Linked DNA regions of Homo sapiens. The protein of the gene in region 2 purifies or fractionates together with the protein of the main gene of each other region. This does not show direct contact. Each region holds a gene or a part of one and is shown on either strand. Other genes may lie near its edges. The genes, in order: KLHL8 and GSX2.

The links.
Region 1: the proteins of GSX2 (region 2) and KLHL8 purify together in Homo sapiens (affinity purification with mass spectrometry; one large-scale study listed by BioGRID and IntAct). This does not show direct contact.

Annotation. Positions count from the first base shown.
Region 1 is NC_000004.12:87,171,853-87,175,667, forward strand, and holds part of KLHL8 (kelch-like protein 8), read right to left. Parts: intron 1-3,815. UniProt on the Homo sapiens protein: Substrate-specific adapter of a BCR (BTB-CUL3-RBX1) E3 ubiquitin ligase complex required for The BCR(KLHL8) ubiquitin ligase complex mediates ubiquitination and degradation of RAPSN.
Region 2 is NC_000004.12:54,098,527-54,102,966, reverse strand, and holds GSX2 (GS homeobox 2), read right to left. Parts: upstream 2,805-4,440; 5' UTR 2,623-2,804; coding exon 2,049-2,622; intron 1,386-2,048; coding exon 1,045-1,385; 3' UTR 469-1,044; downstream 1-468. UniProt on the Homo sapiens protein: Transcription factor that binds 5'-CNAATTAG-3' DNA sequence and regulates the expression of numerous genes including genes important for brain development.

The DNA.
Region 1 (3,815 bases), about 33 Mb from region 2:
TATCCCATTCTTTCCACAGATTTGTGATAATTCAAATATATATTTTCAGACATATACCCAATTTCTACCTCAAATATGTCTTGCTGGCTCTTCAACCTTAACTTTAATCTGAAATGAAACTCACTGCCCACCTCGCTGTGGTAGGCAGAATTTTAAGATACTCCTCATCCCCCATGACCTTCATCCCCTGGTGTTACTCTCATGACTATGCTACATTATATGGCAAAAGGGAGGTGACCTTGGCGGGCCTAATCTAATCAAACAAACCTTCAAAAGCAGAGAGGTTTCTCCAGCTGATTGTCAGAAATTCAAAAAACCAAGTGAATGCAGTGTGCCATTGCTTGTTTGAAGGTGGGGGGGAACATGTGGGAAGGATCTGGCAGTGACTTGTAGCCAACAGCCAATAAAAATGAGAAACAGTCCTATAGCCACAAGGAACTGAATTCTATCAATAACCTAAATGGCCCTGGAAGTGGCTTCTTCCCCAGTGCCTCCAGACAAAAGCCTAGCCCAATCTCTTGATTCTGGCCTTGTGGGACCCTAAGTAGAAAGCCTAGCAAAACCTGCATGACTTTTGAACTGTGAGCTAATAAATGGGTGCTATTTTAAGCTGCTAAATTGGGGGCAATTTGTTACATGGACATAGAAAATTAATACAACCCCATCACAAAACAAACAAAAATTTTATCCCATTCACCATGTTGTTTTCCTAATTCAGAAATCATACCATTATCCATCCAGTTGCTTAAGGCAGAAACCGAAGAATCATCTTTGCCTCTACCTAACTGTTCTTTCTAATTATCATAAAGTGTTTTTGACCATACACCTCTGAACTATCTTTCAAATATGTCCTCTTTTCTCTATCTCAATTTCTATCAGTATAGTCTAAGCCACCATTATTTCTTTACATCAAGGGATGAAGAATTACAATAACCCTTTTTGGTCTGTCAGACTGTTTTCACTCTGGTCATCCTCAAATCCCTTCTCCATTTTGAATGCAGAAGTTCTCTGAAAAGAGAAATCTGATCCTACAATTCCCCTATTATTTAAATAAAAATATAAAATGTATATTTACTATACATGCATATTAAATATATATGTTTAATTCAAAGCCCATCAGATAAAATATCCTTGGCAAACTTGAAAGGCCTTCAACCTTTACTTACTCTTTCTGCCTCATTTCTAGACACTCTTCCCCTTAATCTTCCAACTACATTGGACCACTTTCATGCTCTTTGCTCTCTTTCATCGCCTGGTTTTTGAAGGCTCTTCATCTCCCTCCACTTACCACTCTTACCCCACCTATAATAACTTAATCAGGCTAAATTCTGCAGTTCCTTCAGATCATAATAAATGGGACTTCATTAAGATGTTCTCCACTCCTCAAGCACCCTTTACTCACCCCATGCTAATATTATTGCCCTTATGTCATTATTTGTTATCTTCTCTTCTACAATGTAAGCTATACAGAGGCAGAGACACTGGCTATGTTTTCTACTGCTGGTAGCAAAAAACAAAGTTGTATCTTTACCACTTGGTGTGTCTTGTGGTGGGCATTTAAAACTTTTTTTTGAATAAATAAGTGAACCTTTAGACATGCTGTCAGGATGATGGGTTTCAACAGACTCATAGCTTAAACAAACATCGGTGTCCATTTCAGTGGAAAGATGAAATAAAAAAATAAAGATAACCAGATATTTCACATGTGAAAATGTATTGAAATGCCAAAAAGATGATTTGGGGCTATATAAGTTATAAACAAATAATATGACAAAATAATTGTAGCTCTATTATTTTTCACACAGATTGTAAATGCTCGGGGCATATTTTAAAAGATTAAAGAAATTCAATTGCTATTTTGCTAGAGAAGTTTCATTCAATCTTTGGCTAAAAACCAACATAGTAACAGGGATATAAAGATTAAAAAAGTACTTTGGGATTTTATCTCCCATTTTAATCCATGCAGTTATCACATAGTGTAAATCACTCCCTATTAAAGTATTAAAATGTCATTTGTAGACAGTGGGAGATAACAGTTTAAGACTAGCTTTTTTTTTTTCTAGGATTCTTTTTCATGAGGGGAAAAAAAGCTTAAAATGTCTTCACATTTTTTTTTAATCTTTCATATTTTAACACAAGAAGCAAAAACCAGTTGAAAATATTATTAATCAAAAATAGAAAATTAGAGGCAACATATCCCCATGTGTGGTTTAGTTTTTAATTGCTCATTTTGATAACAAGTCATTTTTGCAGAATGGTGCTAATTTGCCAACCATATAAGCCACAATGTCTCAGGTATGGTTTTACTAGTTCAGGTTTGTTTCTTTTAATTAAACTGTGGGTGATACATTTATATATATTAAGGTCAGTATCATTATATATCATATATATGTGTGTATGTGTGTGTGTATATATATATATCACCTGCAAGTTTTTTTTTTTTGAGACGGAATTTTGCTCTTGTCATCCAGACTGGAGTGCAATGGCGCAATCTCGGCTCACTGCAACCTCCACTTCCTGGGTTCAAGCGATTCTCATGCCTTAGCCTCCGCAGCAGCTGGGATTACAGGCACCCGCCACCACGCCCAGCTAATTTTTGTATTTTTAGTAGAGACGGTGTTTTGCCATGTTGGCCAGGCTGGTCTCAAACTCCTGACCTCAGGTGATCCGCCCATCTTGGCCTCCCAAAGTGCTGGGATTACAGGCATGAGCCACCATGCCCGGCCCACCTGCAGTTTTATTAAAAGAAACTCTTCAGCAATATTTTCAATATTTACTAAGATAGCCCTCTTCTCTCTTCTCGCATTATATTTTCACTCTGACACAGAGACAGAATTATTCTAGTATCTAGTTTTATACAAATTATTAAGCTCAGTCTTTGAAATCCTCACGCTATTAACAGAACAATAAAGTTGAAAAAAAATAGGCAATAAAATTTAATCTCCCATTTGGTGCAAAATATATGTGATCTTTCTGACAATACAATTCCAATCACTAGGAGGAATTACAGTATGCTTCATTGCTACTATACTGAATCATAAACAAATATTTATTCCTTCCTACTAAATCAACATACACTCTTAAAATATCTAGTAACTCCTGTAAGTTTTCTTGTCTCCAGATCACAACGCTTCAACTATTTTTTGTAGATAACATGGTTTTCAGTTGTATTACTAACCTGCTAGTTTTTTCTTACATGCATTCCAGATTATCATTCTCACATTTATTACAATCCATTTTTGTGCATTTTCTATAGATCTTATTTTCAAATTATAAACATGTTACTGTACTAACAAGTTATGTTCATTATAAAACATCCACCCAAAATAAATTTTTAAAAATGTACAGAGAGTCTAATCTTTTATTCCCATACCCCAACTGGTGTTATATACCCTACTTCAACAATACATCTATAGATACGGAGAGATCAGTGTCAAGAACAATACAACTATAACTCCCTTAATCTAAGGCTTCACTTCTTTTAATGTAGGCAACTGTATTATATTCACTTTTTTCCTTTCCTTTTTTTTAAGAGCTGTGTTTCATAATGGTTCAGGTACTTTTCTCCATATGAAACAATCAAAAACCTGATTTCCCACCATGTTATGTTGTACTCGTGGGATTGAGTTTTTAAAATACCTAAGGCAGGTTTTAACCTATAACTCTAATTTTAACATTTTTTAGGTTTTTGTCTAGAGTATATGTGGTCTACTCCGTCTTTGGAATCCTGATTTGGTCACATGCCTTAGTGATCTTTCCACCTTAGGATATCTAAAAAGCTGGTATTCAAGTCATTAATGAAAGTGTCAAACAGG
Region 2 (4,440 bases):
TGATGGATTGTTGCTCTTCCTAAAACTATTCTGACTCTACAAATTCCTTCACATAATTCAAGTTTTCGTACTGAGAGAAATGAGGAAGTAGAAAGAAGAAAACAAAAACTAGATGGGGGATTTTTACCCTTCCTTGCTAAATAAAGGTTTACCTGTCGTTAATGGTCAGTGTCATTCCAAATGGAGTGATTTGTCCTATCAACTGTGAGGAGGTTGCCTATTTTAAGGATGGAGAGGCACTGCCTGGTAGATGCCATCATGACTAAAGGTGTCTCCTTGGCGAAAGTTCTGTTACATAGAAAACCCATTGAGCCACAAACTCCCTCAGTCAAGAGACCCACATTACCAAGTTCTTACTCAACATTTTCCTCGAATTCCTCAGACAGCTTTTTCCTGCATATGCCTTTCTCTAGACATTGGAGGAGGGGGCAGGAGAAGATAGGGAGAGCAAACACCACAGATTTAAAATTCTGGTTTTTGTTTCATTTATTTAAATAAATATAAATATAAATTTTATATAAACCTATTCACATACAAAGGGACTTCCAGCGACTTAGATTTTAAATTCTCCCCAGGCGAAATTTCAGAAAGCAAGACCTACAAGGTCTAATTTTCTAAATTATTTTCAACTTGGGTGTTTTTGTTTGAAAACGACAACAGAAAATAATCAATAAATCCTGTGTTCTTATCGAGTTCTGAAAGAGAGTAGGGATGGGGAACTGACATGTGCTTTCAAAAACCCCATACAGTGTTAAACTTAAACCAACCCTGTTTTTCCTCTGTTATACGACAAGAATGAGTTGAATTATAGGTTATTTACATTTTTTAAAAAAATCTGTAACTTCAAGTTGGAGTCCTAGATAAACAGGTCAAGAAGGAGACGCGAAGGGTCAGGTCCCGGCTTGTCCATTCCAGAACTTCCAGGTTCGTTTCTTCTCCAGATGGGACCACTGCAATGAGCAAGGATTCTGGCCCCTGGGTGCCCCACGCCTTGGCGTTGCCTGGTCTGCCAGGAGCGGGGGATGTGAGGGAGGAGGCCCTCCCTCATAAGGGGGAAATCTCCTTGTCATCGTTGGCTGAGGCCGGCGACAGGGAGTCCTCATCCTCGGAGCGCGCGTAGTGCACCTGGCTCCCGACGCACTTGCAGCCCGCGTGACTGTTCCTCTGCGTGCCCTTCCCCTCCTTCTTGTGCTTCACTCGGCGGTTCTGAAACCAGATTTTCACCTGCTTCTCCGACAGGTTCAGGTAAGTGGCGATTTCAATCCTCCGGAGTCGAGACAGGTACATGTTGGAAGAGAATTCTCTCTCCAGCTCCAGGAGTTGCGTGCTAGTGAACGCCGTCCTCATCCTCTTGCCATTGGGTACCTGGCTGGCGTCAGAGCCTCCTGCGGACCGGCGAAGAGAGGGTAGAGAGGTAAGGCTCGGGCAAGGTGCTCCCACCCCATGTGCTAACCAGGACGCATTTCAGGGACCCACCCGGGGAAGCCCAGCCGAACATCTGTATCCCTTTCCCATTTCAAGGCACGTGGTTGCTTAGCGGGGAAGAAAAGAGACGTGCAAAGCAAATAAAGGTCTTCGATGCGCAGGATGCGAAGTCACAGGATTAAAGAGGGATGGGGGCTTGCACTATCTGATCGCCTCCCTTTGAGCCAAGCGGAGAAGCGCGCAGGCTTAGCCAAAAACGTCAAGACGCTTTAGCCGCCCCGACGCGGGGATGCCACACAGGTTCAAACACACCCACCCCAAATCCCAAGCAGTTAACCTCTGGTTTATCCGCCGTGACGTTCGAGGTCCCTAAGGCCCCAGTATTAATAAGGCAATACTCGAGCACCTACTACTAGGAGTAAAACGCACCAGGCTGAGTGGAGAAGCTGGCAAACTAACTTCCACTTTCGTGGAACTTCTGTGGCTGACTCTACGGTTACACTAAAAGCCCGTCCTCTCTCTTCACCCTGTCCCCGGGCTCCCACTTCCTCCACTGGAGGTGGAAAGTTTGCTCCAGGAGCGCGAAAGGCGCGGAGCGCAGGTGCCCCAAGACCCCGCCCTACCCATGGTGAGGCAGTGGAATCTCCGCGGGTCCGCCACGTTGTAGGTGGTGGCGGTGCAGACAGGTGCGTGGTGCTGCGGGTGCCCCAAGGCCGCCGCGGCCGCCGCCGCCGCTGCTGCTGCTGCCGCCGCCGCGGCCGAGCCAGGCTGCTGGGGCTGATGATGGTGATGGTGGTGCTGCGGCGGGTGGTGGTGATGATGCGCATGGTTCACCCGCGGGCAAAACTGCGCGTCCCCAGGAGCCGAAGAGAACTGGCCCTTAAGCAGAGGCAGTGCCCCTGCGGCCCCTGCCACCCCACTGCCTCCGGCCCCGGTAACCCCGGCCCCTGCGCCCCCGCTGCCGGCGCCCACAGACCCCCGAGAGGAGTGCAGGTGCGAAGTGACGCAGAGAGGGCACACGCAGAACGCGCCGCTCTTGCGGGACGGGCAGCCGGGGCCGGACACGGACATCACCAATGGGGGCGGCATGCCAAGCGGGATGAAGAAATCCGGCCCGGGGTGCGGTTCAGGCAGCGAGGGCGCAGGCCGTGAGGTGTCCTTGATGATGAGCGAGTCGACATAGAAGGAGCGCGACATGTCGAGAGGGGTGGGTGGCTGGAAGCCCCGGCAGTTCGCGGCGACCCCTCTCCTCTAGTGTTCTAAGCTCTGCCCTGGGAGCCGCGCAGACACGGGCAGTCAAGCCCTTGGGGACGCAGAGGTGTTGGCGTCTGGGCTGGGAACAAAGGGGTCCCCGGAGAGGGCTGGTCCTCACGTCCCCCGCCCGGCGCCCCGGCTCGGGTATTTTATAGCCCCCCACCCTGGCACGTGATGCTGCGGAGTACCGCTCGGCTCAGGCTCCTCGGCAGCTCCGCACCCTCGGGATAGGCTGCCCGAGTCACAACAGAAGCCGCGAGGAGGGGCGGGCGCGCGGCGGGGAAGAACTCGGGGGAGGGGGATGGGGGAGACTTTGCAAAGTGTAGGTTTTGTTAATTTCCCGGGGAGGCCGGCCTCCTCCCCCTCTTTCTCCACGCTTTACTGAGAAATCACAGCGCTGCATCCTCCATCCCACCCCCTCTCGCTACCCTGGCCGCAGCCCAACTCTTCCCCACGCCCCACCGCAAAGCGTACCAGGTGGGGACTTGGAGGCTTATTTAATAGGAATGCTCAGTGTTTCCAGCTCCTCTGTGGTAGGGGTGGCTGCGGCGCGGTGAAGTGTGAGGCCTGCGGTTTGGAGCAGGATTGTGCGGGCGACGGACTGGCAGTCGTCCAGTCCCTGAGCGCAGCTCTGGCCACGGTTACACCTACCCCTGTCCACAGCTTTTGGACTTGGCAGAGGTCATTCAGGTGGTTAGTTCAGGACTGTCCGGCGCAGAACTGTGAGGCCTCCCAGCTAAGAAACCGTCAAGCTTTTCATGCTGATGTTCGACAAGGTCTGAAGTGTCTTTGTACTTGGGGCCCTCCTGGGGCCACTCAGACCAACGACCCTTCCTTGTTTCCCTTTCTGATCGGCACCTCCCACTTCCGCAGAGAGAGAGAGATGTTGAAGAGTCACCCTTTTCTTTCTCCAAGTAGTAACACCATGGCATTCCAGGGCAATCCTACAAACTCCATCCTGAAGATTTTGGAGGGAGGACCTCAAACACCAAGCCCTCCTAAAGACGCAGCAGGGATTAGATAGACCTTCGCTCTGGGTCTGAGGATTTCCTGTCCCTCATTTTTACCAATCATGGGCAGCTTAGCAAGGCTAACCAGGAAGCACTCTTTCCTCTGCATCTTAAGAACCTAAAAAGGATGAAGAGGATTCAGCCATCCAGGGAATCTTGCCTCTGATTGGCAGAAGTGGCTTTGTAAGGGAACTCTCTCTGGTCCATGGAAGTCTTGCACACCCCTTACTGCCCGAGAGAGGGTGGCTGCCAAACTATTGGGACTATTTATCTTCGGAGAAGGCAAGGCAGCAGAGGTGGCCATTTTCTCTCTTCATTTCCCCCTGCAGAAAAGCGGGCTGGGGCCATGTGGTTGGGCAATAGTTAGAAGTCTGATCCTTTTTCCAGAGCAGCTAACTTCAATCCTGAGTTCATGATGGTGCTAAGAAACTTAGAGACAGGACTCCCTCCACCTGAGAGAACAAGGTGCCCAAATCCAGGAGAGCACTAGCTAGAGGCACGGCTCTATCTTTCCATCCTCTGTCTTCCCCTCTCCATCTCTGTGACAGTCTCTCTTGCCTGCTAGAGAAGTGTAATTGGGTTGTAGGGATGCCCGGCTCTGGGGAGCCCAGGATTTATGGATGGCAATTAAAGTTTTATGAATTGCAGCTGAGGCTGGTTATTGAGCTATTTGAATGTGATTAGAATTCAATTAGAAAGCGGTTAGTGGACGGTGGGTCTCTGGAGTGTAAACAGACAGCTATTCCAGAAA